2 separate regions of the Homo sapiens genome follow, and region 1 is linked to region 2. Evidence: fine-mapped expression QTL. Tissue or cell type: cerebral cortex. Region 2 holds a variant in brackets; the other region holds the start of a gene. All regions are shown on one strand. Distances are between the middles of the regions.

Region 1 (5,421 bases), 850 kb before region 2:
TCCCTACTTTTTTTTTTTTTTTTTTTTTTTGAGACGGAGTCTCACTCTGTCATCCAGACTGGAGTGCAGTGGCACTATCTGGGCTCACTGCAACCTCTGCTTCCCGGGTTTAAGCGATTCTCCTGCCTCAGCCTGCTGAGTAACCGGGATTACAGGCGCTCGGCACTACGCCCGGCTAATTTTTGTATTTTTAGGAGAGAGGGGTTTCACCACGTTGGTTAGGCTGGTCTCGAACTCCTGACCTCGTGATCTGCCCGCCTCGGCCTCCCAAAGTGCTAGGATTACAGGCGTGAGCCACCGCGCCTGGACTCTCCCTACATTTTTCGTTTTTCATTTTCCCTGGTAAAACGTTTAAAAACAATCATAGTATTTCTCAGTGCATTTTGTTAGAACTAAGAGTGCCTATGCAAACACTTAAGTAATGCTGCGGGTGCAGCCTCTCAAGCACCCAAACCCTAAAGAGAACGTCTCTGTCTCTGCGCCTAGCCCTTTATGCGGAACTTGAGGACACCTGGTTCTTCATTCCTCAGAGTTGGCCACCTTTCTCTGGTGTCCAGGCCAGACTTCCTCATTCAGTTCCTGTAGCAGTCTGCTAATGCATTGGGTGGATCGGCCCTAGGCCGCTTTTGGCTAAAAACACCCAGGGGCGCCCAGGCCGGAACTAAGGAAGCAGGGTGAAGACCAGGCGTCTTGAGCACACCAGAGGCTCTCTCTGCGGCTTGCTGTAGCGTGGCCCGCGGGGCCACCACTGTGCCCGGACCCTGTTTCCAATTGTTTCTATGTGCAGTTTGATTTGTATGTCTATTCTTTGAGAGTCTGAAATAGGCAACGTTTTGTGAAAATCATAGAATGCTGGAGGGCCCCCCGGTTCCACGATTTCCAAATTTGAAGACAAAAATGGTAACCAGCAACTACTGACATAGAAAGCAACCAGCCTCATTTGAGAACTTACAGCTAAGTTCAGACTCTTGCAACCTCGAGGAGAAGAGGGAGTATCTGTACATATCTGGCCACATGTCACCTGGGATGAACAGGGTGACCGGTCTGTTACAGACTTGGGGGCATGGGGATACAATTGCAGTCTCTTTTTAAGGCACTAGCGAAGCGAGATTTTCATGGGTCGCGAGGTTGGTCGGTGAGGATGGGGAAGGGAAACTGGACTTTTCTGGGCGTTTAAGAGCCAATAGGGAGAGCTCCTCTAAGGTGACACTGGCCTCCGCACTGAAGCTCGCGCCTCCCGGATGCAGCTCGCCTGTGCGGGATCATGCGGGGCTGGATTTCAGGTTTCACCCTTAAAGGACATTCCCTTTGCTTGGCCCGAGTTTTCCCAAGCCAGCCGGGCTTTTGACTCTGCCAGTCTCAAACCCATTTGCGGTAGAGGCAACAGCAGGGGGCAGAGAGCAGCTCCAGCGTCTGGGGCCGGGCGTTCTCTCGGGGCCTCCCGGTCGCGCCCGGCCTTACGGTGCCCGCGTGGAGAGTGCAGCCTGAGCAGCGCCAAGTCCTGCTCCCTGTGCCTGGTGCCCTCCCTCAAGCCGTCATACGCTGCCCGAGAGAAGCCCTTCCAACCCGACTCAGCATCTTTAACCTGCTGCTTTCCCAAACAGCGCTGGCTCTCTGAGTTTGCACCCCGCTAAGACCTTTTCCCAGCCCAGCCCCGCCGCCCCGCGTGCGGGATGAACCGAGCCGGTGCCTAGCCGAAGTAAAGAGAGTCCGCCGCGGACAGAGTCCCTGCCTGAGACCGCAGGGCCTCGGAGTGTCCCCGGACCTTGGAGCCTCTCTCCAGCGTCCTCCTTGGCTATGCCCTCGGCCGAGACCCGCTTTTCTCATCTGGTTTCCCCTGTGACTGGCCCTTCCTTTGAAGTCTGCCATCACCTCTCCTGGTCCCAGGACCTTGTCTTTCTGGCCGCGGACGGGCTCTAGCTGCCCTACACGGGTCCCCGCCCTCTGTCCCGGGCACACACCCCCGTGGGCATGCGCCCCTCACTCACTGTCCTGCTGCGGGGTGTCGCTGCCGCTGGTGAGTCCCGGCGACTCCAGCAGGCTCCGGCCAGCCTCGCCCACGTTCTCATCCGCCTGTGCCGCCACCATGTCCCCGGCTTCCTCCAGGTCTAGCAGGTGACTGACGGAGAAGTTCTTTTTCGCCTGCAGGGTGTCGAGGTTGCCCGGGCTGTCCAAGCGGCCGCCCAGCGCCGGTTGCCGCTCCAGAACGTGCCCGTAGCTGGAGGTCATGGTCTCCCCCACCGATCCCACCCACCCCCCTCTTCCCGCTCGAATCAACACCAAACGCTGTGGGCGCGAGGGGGGAGAGGAGCCGAGTGGGGAAGAAAGAGGGGGGTAGTGGAGAGAGAGAGAGAGAGAGGGAGGAAGAGGGAGGGAAGGAGAGGAAGGCCAAAAAAAAAAAATTGGAAAAGAGGGTGGGGGACCCCCTTCTGTAGAGCAGAGCGTTGTGCACCAGCCGCCTTCCGCAGCATTGGTTGATTTCCTGAGGCCAAGTCCGGCGCGGTCCAAAGAGATAATCCACAGTAAAATACAATATTAAAAAGTCACCCTATGTTCAAGTCAGGAGAAAAAAATCCCTTCCAACTCTCCAAAAGTGTCCACACGCACAGACTAAAAATAATAACAAGGGGGAGAGAGGAAAGCGGAGGCCAGCAGGGCGGGGGAGTTAGGCAAACAGAAGAAGAGAGAAGAAGGGGTGGGAGAGAAGAATCAAAGTGAATGGTTTTTTTAAAGGTTAAAAAAGTTATTCCCAGGCAAGAGTTCAAGCACCAACAGAAGAAGGCTTGTTCCAGCTTTAAAACATCTTCAAGAAAACGTGTTCCCCCCTCTCTGCACTCCTGTGGATTCTCAGGAGTGACTAAAGTTTCAGGAGGAGAGGGTGATGTCTTGCAGATGTATTAGAGAGCAGGATTCTCACTTTACTTTTTGTAAAGAGTAAAAAAAAAAATTAAGAATTAAAAAAAAAAGGCTTCAAGAGTCCGACGGAGGGTGCTGGTGGGTTCCCCCCTTTCCCCTTCTCTCTCTCCCCCTCTTCTTGCTGGGCTCCTTTTTCCTTCTCAGTTGGATCAAGAAGCTCTCTGGCACTTCAAAAGGCACAAACTGGCATGCAGAGGAGGCTTTGTAGGGAATACAAGAAAATTGGAGACCCCTGGGAGGGCAGATCTCGACTTAATAGGAGCCTGTAATTACGTGGCAAAGCCTTTGTGCTGTGCCTGACGTTTCACAGACCCCCTTTCTCCATCACAATCTCCTTCTTCCTCCTTTCCCTGGGACCAAAAAACAGTCTGATTAAGAAAACCCCCTTTGCCAACATCAGAGTTAGAGAGAAAGGGAGAGGGAGGGAACAAGAGAGAGGGAGGGAGAGAGGGAGGGAGGGAGGGAGGAAGGGAGAGAGAGAGAGAGAGAAAGAGAGAAGAGAAATGAGAGAGGGAAGAGAGCAAGAGAGCCCCTTTGGATTTCTAAAGGTCTAATTATCATTCCCCTGCAATAATATCACGGGGAGAAAAGACAAACTGAAACTCACAGTCACTTCAAACGTGCTGATTATTTTGCTTCGGCATTAACTCCTCCAGATTTGTTTAAGATCCTGTTGGAAAATCTCATTTGCATGTTTTGATAACAGCTGTGGGGAAATTTGGAAAAAATCCACCACCATCACAATCAAATTTTCTTCTCCTTCTGCCTTCCCCCAAACCGCCCCCCCCCAAAAAAAAATTTTCTGCTGTTCTAACAGTTTGGGGCGGAGTACAGGGAGAAAGTAAGCATATTAAGGCTATTTTTGGTTCCGTAGAGGGAGCCTATTAAATAATGTAATAAAAATAACAAAAGGGATGATAATAGGAAGTTCTCTCACGCCTCTCGCAAGGACTAAAGGCAGGTTGGGGAGATCCAGAGGGCACCGAGTTTATTTGAGGCTTTCCCCGCCATTAGGCATACCAGGACTAGGGCAATGAGAAAAGTACGTGTTTATTAAACTGGAAGAAAGGACTCCAAATATATATTATAATCTTTCTCCCTACCCCCGCCAATTTTGTAACTTCTACGGTAAGGCCAAAGTTGCTTCCCCAGGCGAGGACGCTAAACCCAGAGGGTCCCGCTGCCCAGATTCCTTGAAGCAGGCAGGAGCACTCCCAGAGGCAGGAGTTGGGGAGGCTTCCGTGCGGTTCTGCGTCCAGCCTGGCTGTGGTGGCAGGAGGACAGAGAGGGGCGGAGGAACCCCCATCTAAGTCTACGGATAATCCTCTGTCGTCCGTCTGCGGAGCCCTAACCTGACAGAAGACAGAGAGGTGCTGAGCAGTTTTTTCATGACCTGTTGGAATTTGGTAACAGCTTTAACAGTCTCATTAGAAATGAGTTACTGTATGACGACTCAGTAAAATATTAAGTGCTTATTTGTGGCGTTTTATGTTCTTTAAACGCGCACTCACACACACACACACGCATCCGTACTCCCGCACTCCCTTGATTGCTAGACTTTTTTTTTTTTTCGTCCTATAGTCAAGAGGCTCGACTGGAGAGAAAGAAGGGTACGAGTGTGTGTAAATGGTTTCTGGGCTCCAAACGGCCATAGTTAGCCCAGAACTTCCAGCCCTGATCTGGGAAAAGAACATTTGATGCCATCAAAGGGCTGTAGATTGAAACCAGATGTGCTCGCCTCGGTTCTTTCCATGCATTTAATTAAGGAACTGGGATGGAGGAGACTTTTTCATCATTAGTCCACCCACTCCCCCCTCCTCTCGGCGGTCTTTCGCCCTCCCCCCACTCTCCCCGCCCCCACCCCCATCCCTTGGCCGCTCGAACCCCCGACCGGGAGCCCAGAGCCCTGCCAGCGCCGCACTGTGCGCCGCGCAAGTCGCTCGATCTCCCCAGCGGTACCGGCTCTAAGCAGTAAACATCTGTGCGCTTCTGAGCCAGGGACGCGCGTGGGGGGTGGGCGTGCACGCGGGTGGGCCAGCGCAGAGTGGGAGCTTGTGGGTGCTTTCCGTCGGGATTTCCAACTCAGCTGCCTCCGAGAGCCTAAGCTGAGCGCCGCACGTGCTCGTGCCATCTGCTGTACTGGACGCAGTCTAATAGCGCAGAGAGGTTTCCATCCGGCATCCAGTTCGATGTGGGCCGTTTTTCCCTTCCCAGCGGTCTGTCCTTGGAGCTGATCAGTCTCCCCAAAACCTCCCTAGAAATAGAGCAGCTCCTCGCCTCTCCCTCCTTTCGCACTCTCTATCCTCATTTACACAGTTGCGTTTTAACGTTGCTGTTTTTCCCCTACACATACCCAATTGCCCGTCGTGACAAAGGTGTGGGTAAGGGCTGGGGACTTTTGGCACCCCCAAGACACGATGTTCCCCCTAAAGATCCAGCGTCCTCAGTCATTTAGGGGGTCAGCGTCCTCAGATCGCCCTTTCGAGGAAATTGCCTTATCCGGGT
Region 2 (8,196 bases):
CAAAGACCTTGCTGATAAAACAGCATGCAGTAGAGAAGCTGGCCAAAACCCACCAAATCTAAGATGGTGACAAAAGTGACTTCTGGTTGTCCTCACTGCTCACTATACACTAATTATAATGCATTAGCATGATAAAAGATACTCCCATCAGTTCCATCACAGTTTACAAATACCCTGGCAACAACCAGAAGTTACCCTATATGATCTACAAAGGGGAGAAACCCTTAGTTCTGGGAATTGCCCACCCCTTTCCCAGAAAGGGAATAATCTACCCCTTGTTTAGCATATAAATCAGGAAATGGCCATAAAAGTGGCCAACCAGGAGACTTAGGGGTTGCTCCACCTATGGAGTAACCATTCTTTATTCTTTTCTTTTTTTTTTTTTTGAGACAGAGTCTTGCTCTGTCACCCAGGCTGGAGTGCAGTGGCGCGATCTCGGCTCACTGCAACCTCCACCTCCTGGGTTCAAGAGATTCTCCTGCCTCAGCCTCCGGAGTAGCTGGGATTACAGGCACCCACCACTGTGCCCAGCTAATTTTTGTATTTTTAGTAGAGATGGGGTTTTACCACGTTGGCCAGGCTGGTCTCCAACTCCTGACCTCATGATCTACCCACCTCTGCCTCCCAAAGTGCTGGGATTACAGGCGTGAGCCACCGCGCCTGGCCTTATTCCTTTACTTTCTTAATAAACTTGCTTTCGCTTTACAAAAAAAAAAACAAAACTTTTTTTATATAGTGAAAACTGAAATGTACCAAGTGTGCATCATGTGGAGAACACCTAAATACAGTTGACCTTTGAACAACATGGGGTCTAGGGGTGCCAACCCCCATGTGGTCTAAAATCCGAGGATAACTTTTGAGTCTCCCAAAACTTAACTACTAATAGCCTACCACTGACTATAAGCCTTACTAATAAAAAGAGCTGATTAACATATTTTGTATATGTATTAACACTGTCTATTTACAAGAAGAATCATCTATCTGAAATGGCAGGTAATTGCAGTTGCAGACCTCAATTTACAATATGTATCAAGGAATTCTCGGGAGCACTTCCAGGATCACTAGTGGCACTTCTTATGGGTTTCCATATTGCATTAAAGATGATGAAAAAATATGGAGGCACCTCAAGCAATAACTTTTTACTGAGAAAAGCAATTTACTTACTGGAGAGACAAACTGCTCACGTGGGGATGGTTAGTATCACATGGCCTTGCAACACTTTTCACAGTAACAGCAACAGGAAGTGGCTATGAAATTATTGTATACTGAATATATAGAAAATAATGGCAAAAACTGCAATTACTTTGGCACAACCTAATAGTACTACAATATGTACCACAGTTAATTTTATGCAGTTATGATTTAATACTGCATATTTACCTTTGTTTACATTTCTCTCAACTGCATGGTACCATGTATGGTCTCTGTGTGCTAAGTTTTGATAAATTTTAACCTTTGATAATAGATTTGTATTATTTTATGGTAATAAATGACAATTTAAAAAAGTCTGCATAAGTTGACCTGTGCAGTTCAGACCTGCATTGTTCAAGGGTCAACTATAAATTTATAGTATAATCACATAAGAATCAGGTACATATATCTTCATGGACACAGAAAGCCCTAAGGATAAACTGTTAAGTAAAAAATCAAATTGTAAACAACTTGTATAATGTAAAATTAATTACAAAAATTGAGTCATTCTTGTCATACCCAACTAAAACAGAGTCAACAGGCCTAGGGGAAAAGCACTCAGGGCACAAAACATTTCTCCCAAAATGTAATTCTCTGTAGGCCTGGCTGCTGAAACTGCCTGCTGTAACCGGAAACCAGTTTTATCTAAGGGCTACTGAAAGAAACTAGTGCAACTCTAAGACCAGTGTTACCCACTGCCATCACTCACCAATCAGAGCTTGACAGCTCCCCAAATCTAGTGCCAATGGACTTTCTTGAAGAGCTATATGTAATATGTCTCCTTTTTTATAAGACCGCTAACCTTCTCCTTTTTCTGTGGACATACCGAACAATTGGTCTGCATGAATGCTCCAAAGTGCAATTACTTCCTCCCAAATAAAACGTTCTGTTTTCAGAGATTTGTCTATTGACTCTAATGATAACACAATCCTATCATTATTTTTAAATGTGTTAAACCACCCCCAAAATAAATCAAAACCTTTCCTGTGATTCTTTCTAGTAGACGAAAATAGGATTTAACCTTCCATGTTAGATACTTGTGTAATATGTGTGAGTTTTCTGATTACGTATTACATTTGTAAATTGATAAAACAGTGGGTAGTGCCAATAATATGCAGGGAGGGCTATAGATTCATCTGCCTGGATTTAAGTCCTGGTCCTACTACAACTACTATATGATCTGGGGAAAGTTATTAAACCTTTCTGTGGCCCAGTTTTCTCATCTATAATGAGGCTAATACAGGATTATTGTGAGATTTAAACAGTGTCTGACGTTTAAGCAACTTAGCTCAATAAATATTGGTTGTTCCACCACCCAAGTTTATAATACACACTATAATCCAAACAGCTTTAAATAGTGCCATAAAATTAAGTCAAATAAATTACTGTCTTTAATTTGTGAATTATTTCATATGAAAATAACATATCTTAACTTATATGTTGATTGGCTATGTTTCTTTTCCAATATAGCAAAATCTTCATTAAACCAAATCAAAACAGAGTTGGATGGTTCGCTAATGGAATATGATCCCTCATTTTGACCCTTATTAAAAATATTTGAAAATAGTCCATTTTCCTCAGCAGAAATAGGGTAGATGAAAATTCACCTTTCTTTGATCATTTTTTTTTTTTTTGAGATGGAGTCTCACTCTGTTGCCCAGGCTGGAGTGCAGTGGCATGACCTCGGCTTACTTCAACCTCCACCTCCTGGGTTCAAGTGATCCTCCTGCCTCAGCCTCCCAAGTAGCTGGCATTACAGGTGCGCACCATCACTCCTGGCTAATTTTTGTATTTTTAGTAGAGACGGGGTTTCACCATGTTGGCCAGCCTGGTCTCGAACTCCTAGCTCAAGCAATCTGCCCACCTCGGCCTCCCAAAGTGCTGGGATTACAGCCATGGGTCACCACACTCAGCCTTTTCGATTATTTTGAAGATGAACTCTCTAATACAGTGCTATGCAAATTTAAAAGCACAAAGTTTATTCTACACTGACCTTATAATCAGCATAGACGTCATCATATCACCATAAGAAACCTTTCCTGACTTCATCACTGGGTACCTATCTTGTACTCCCATGAGCCAGCCAATACCCAGTCCTCCAAAGATCATACCATTCTATAATAATTACCTACTTACTTGTGTCTCAGGCTAGACTCTAAGTTGTTGAGGGCACCTACAACATTTCCTGGCACAGAATAAGTACTCTGGAAATACTTGTTAAATGACTGAATGAGTGGTGACACACAACTTATTTGTTTGCTTACTTTAAATTTTCTCTCTCATTCAAGAGGAAATTACACAAGATTTGTTCGAAGCCTCTAGCTTTACTTCATTACTAAATAGCATACTACTAATTAAACCTAGAGTTTTATTTTTACATTTTCAAAAAGCAGGTAAATAACACAAATAACTTAACAGTCCCATCTTTGATTTACTCAACTGTTTAAAACAAAGTTTGCATCTTAATGCCAACAAAGAAGGTGTGGGTAATATAAGCAAGGAAGACCATTTTTCAATGCTTTAAAATATGAGCACCATTCTTTCTTTCTTTCTTTGTTTCTATCTATCTAGACAGGCTCTCACTCTGTTGTCCAAGCTCTATCTATCTATCTATCTATCTAATCTATCTATCTATTATCTATTTAGATAATCTATTATCTATTTAGATAGATAATCTGTCTATTATCTATTTAGATAATCTGTCTATTATCTATT[T/CT]AGATAATCTGTCTATTATCTATTTAGATAATCTGTCTATTATCTATTTAGATAATCTGTCTATTATCTATTTAGATAATCTGTCTATTATCTATTTAGATTATCTATCTATCTATCTATCTAGACAAGCTCTCACTCTGTTGTCCAAGCTGGAGTACAGTGGCCTGATCATGGCTCACTGCAGCCTCAATCTCCTGGGCTCAATGCATCCTCCCACCCCAGTCTCCCAAGTAACTAGAACTACAGGTATGTGCCATGAGGCCTGGAGAATTTTTTTATTTTTTGTAGAGATGGGGGTCTCCCTGTGTTGCTCAGTCTGGTCTCAAACTCCTGGGCTCAAGCAATCCTTCTGCCTTGGCCTCTCAAAAGTGCTGAGATTACAGGCACATTCTTTCTTTAATAAAACAATTAAAATACTAATAAAATTTAAATATAGCAGGCAATAAAATCTAAGTGTAGGCAACAGATACAATAGTATATGTTTATTTTCTGAATAATACAAATTTCTAAAAGCATTATATAAACATAAGTAGGAATTAGAGTGGAAATTAAATTAGTTCTAAGGGCCACACAAATAAATTTCCCTGTTTATAGAAAAACTAAATAATTGGGGGCAGGCCGGGCGCGGTGGCTCACGCCTGTAATCCCAGCACTTTGGGAGGCCGAGGCGGGTGGATCATGAGGTCAGGAGATCGAGACCATCCTGGCTAACAAGGTGAAACCCCGTCTCTACTAAAAATACAAAAAAATTAGCCGGGCGCGGTGGCAGGCGCCTGTAGTCCCAGCTACTCGGGAGGCTGAGGCAGGGGAATGGCGTGAACCCGGGAAGCGGAGCTTGCAGTGAGCCGAGATTGCGCCACTGCAGTCCGCAGTCCGGCCTGGGCGACAGAGCGAGACTCCGTCTCAAAAAAAAAAAAAAAAAAAAAAAAAAAAAAAAAAAATTGGGGGCTAAAGAACTATATGTTAAAACTATACATTAAAAACTCTAATAGAATATTCTCTTTTTGAAACCAATTTCAAGACTTAATTGAGAATAAATATCGATTTTAGGGGTTGTTATGGGTTGAACTGTGTCCCTCCCAAAAAGCTTTAAGTTCTAACTCCCAATACTTCAGAATGTGGCCTTATTTGGAAATAGGGTTATTGAAGACATAATTAGTTAAGATGAGGTCATATTAAAGTAAGGTATGCCCTTAATCACTATCACTGGTGTTCTTATAAAAAGATGATGTGAAGACACAGAAAGCCAAAGTAAGCTAAGGATTGCCAGTGACACCGAGAAGCTAAGAGAAAGATATGAAATATATTCTCCCCTAAAGCCTTCCAGAGAACATGGCCCTATTGACACACTGTGAACTTCTGCCTCTAGAAATGTGAGAGAATAAAATTCTATTGTTTTAAGCCACCTAGTTTGTGGTAACTTGTTACGGCAACCCCAGGAAATTAATACAAGGAATGATACATCACATGCTTCTATAAATAGTGTAATATTAATTAAATCTACTGGTTTTATTTTGACTTTTTTCCAAGTGAGATGATATGGCTTGAAGATTGGTGTCCTCCCAGACACCTAACACCCAATGTGATACTATTAAGAGGTGGGGCCTTTGGGGAAGTGATTAAGTCATGAGGGCTCTGCCCTCATGAATGACATAAGTGCCCTTATAAAAGAGGTTGAAGGGAGCTGTCTTGCCCCTTGCACTAAGTGAGGATGCAGCAACAAGGGGCCATTTTTGAAGCAGACGGCACACCCTCGTTAGACACCAAATCTACTGGTGCCTTGATATTGGGCTTCCCAGCTTCCAGAACTGTGAGAGATAAATTTCTAATATTTATAATCCCTTACCCAGTTTAAGGGATTTTGTTATAGCAGCCTAAATGGACTAAAACACAAAGTGAAAACTGCCAGGAAAACTTCAATACTTTACTTTGATTGGTAAATAAATATTAATAGTGAACAGCAGAGGGCGTCGCTGATCAGAATTTGGAGTTAAGATTGAAGAAATTATACAGTCCACCTCAAAGCTCCATTTCAGGCAATGGACAGTAAGCAGAACTGGTCACATTTATCAGTCCCAAATTTGAAAAAATGAGAATTTTCTTGGACAGTTAAGAGAATTTAAATTTTCTGATTTCCATCTATAAGCAGTTTATATAAACTGAAGATATACTTTATGTACAGCCACCCTGGCTAAGCAGCCCCCATACTCTCTCTTGCCACTATAGACTATACTGTTGTTTAGACTTTCTTCATCTTACTCTTGGTCCAAGTATCTCTGTTTAATTTTCCTCTCCAAGTACTAGCTGCAAACTCTGTGGTGTCAAGAGAAGCAAGAAGGAAACTGAAAAAGGAGGAGGTTGGTGTTGAGAATATGAATCTATAGGATAAAGGTAAAGAAGAAAACAACCTTCCTGCCATTGATATAGGATACCCAAACAAACTTCTCCTTTTAGCAAGGTAAGAGGAATCAGAAAGGATGCACGAATGAAGTGAGGACAAAAAAGGAAAGGGAAAAAGGAAGAAGGGATACAAGGGGAGGGGCAGGTGAGATAAAGAAGAGAAGCAAGAAGAAAAAAGTTAGCCCCTTCCTAACACTACTCCTCATTTCCTTCTTACTACCTTCAGAACTTCTTTTTAAAGTTCCACCCTCCCCTAGGGTCTGTCCTTCCAGATCAGCCCTGCCCTAGGAGTTGCTACCAGTTTTAGGACTTGGATGAACCCCTACACTTTCACCCCCATAGCTGACTGGCAGGGAAGAGCGCAGGTACAAAGGAATTCCCTGTATCAGCTTGCAGATGTACAATAGAAGGGGCTATGTCATTGCTATTCAAGGAAGAAATATTCAATTCATGGTCCCATTAAAATTATTACATATAGGCTGGGCGCGGTGGCTCACACCTGTAATCCCAGCACTTTGGGAGGCCAAGGCGGGTGGACCACCTGAGGTCAGGAGTTCGAGACCAGCCTGGCCAACATGGCGAAACCCCGTCTCTACTAAAAAAATTAGCCAGGCGTGGTGGCAGGCGCCTATAATCCCAGCTACTCAGGAGGCTAAGGCAGAACGATCCCTTGAACCCGTGAGGCAGAGGCTGCAGTGAGCCAAGGTCATACCACTGCACTCCAGCTTGGGTGACAGAGTGAGACGCCATCTCAAAAAAAAAAAAAACAAATGACATATAACTGTTAGGTCCTGAGTACTATTAATCTTATAATTTAGGACTACTATAGTTAAATAAAATTGAGGGCTAGTCTGAAAGCAAAAGGTACTATGTATAACAGTGTTACAGGAAAATGAGTTATAATTCCCAATAATCGTACTACAAATTTTTAGAATATAATGTTTCATAAATGGGATACCAATTCAACACTCTAACTTTTCAAAATAAAAACAAATGTATGACTATATCAAATTTAAAAGACTGATACATACATATACATGCACAAACATACTTGTATCCCTAAAGGTCGCAATGCGTTGGTGAAGAAAAAATGCAAGATTGATTGCAGCTATATCAGATCTTATACAAATATGAACAAAAGAATTTTTGTTCTCATGCAGAAAAGAATGAAAGGATTCTGAGAAGAATGCTGTGACCAACCAGTTACCAAGCAAAGAGGGAGCCAGGCAGACCCCAGAGGCAATGACAGCAGTTAGGAATCTAATACAATGCTCTGGGTGAAAAGTAATTATGGGATATAAATAATCCCACAGATCAAAAAAAAACACCCAAATGAAATAAATTAAAATCCTCTTAAATAGACTGACCCAGACATTCAAATGAGATTTACTAACTGCCAAAGAAAATAAGAGTTGCTGTTTAAAATGCTATTAGCCCAAATTTTACCTGTGCATCTGACTGTGTCATCTGCTCAGCTAACTGTAAACAAGAATGGAAGGAGAAAAGAATGTCTTCACACAAGCTAGTAATTATATCTTTGTGTTTCAACTGGCTTTTTATTATGGACTGGTGCTTAAGGCTCTGCCTAAATGAATAAAAAGAAAAGAATACAATCACCACAAGTAACACATCAAGTAACTTAGGACCTCTAACAATATCTACCTTGTAGAACATTTAAAAAAACAATCAAAAAGCATCATATATCACATAATATAACTAAGATGTGCCCAGTTTACCTCTGAAGCAGTTATATTTGTTTAAATAAGTTGCTAATTTTTTCTCTGTGTAAAATATTAATTGAATTCTTACTATGTATGAGGCATTCTACCAGGCCCTGGAGACAAAGGGGTCAAACAAATGGACACAATCTCCGCCTTACCTGCATGAAAC

What was found. PIP is the estimated chance that this variant, and not a neighbour inherited with it, causes the effect.
Region 1: PRRX1 starts here. The variant in region 2 is fine-mapped to the expression of PRRX1 in cerebral cortex (GTEx, PIP above 0.99).

What each region holds. Positions count from the first base shown.
Region 1 is chr1:170,661,027-170,666,447 of GRCh38, reverse strand. It overlaps PRRX1 (paired related homeobox 1), which reads right to left and starts at 2,317. Exons shown (of 4, transcript NM_022716.4): 1 at 1,989-2,317. The coding sequence starts at 2,229. RefSeq lists enhancers at 824-1,684, 2,885-3,412.
Region 2 is chr1:169,807,486-169,815,681 of GRCh38, reverse strand. FIRRM (FIGNL1 interacting regulator of recombination and mitosis) reads right to left here. Exons shown (of 25, transcript NM_001320047.2): 9 at 7,753-7,891. Among named protein-coding and RNA genes, the nearest start is that of FIRRM, 17 kb to the right of the region's middle. The variant T/CT (reference allele first, on the strand shown) is at 3,907.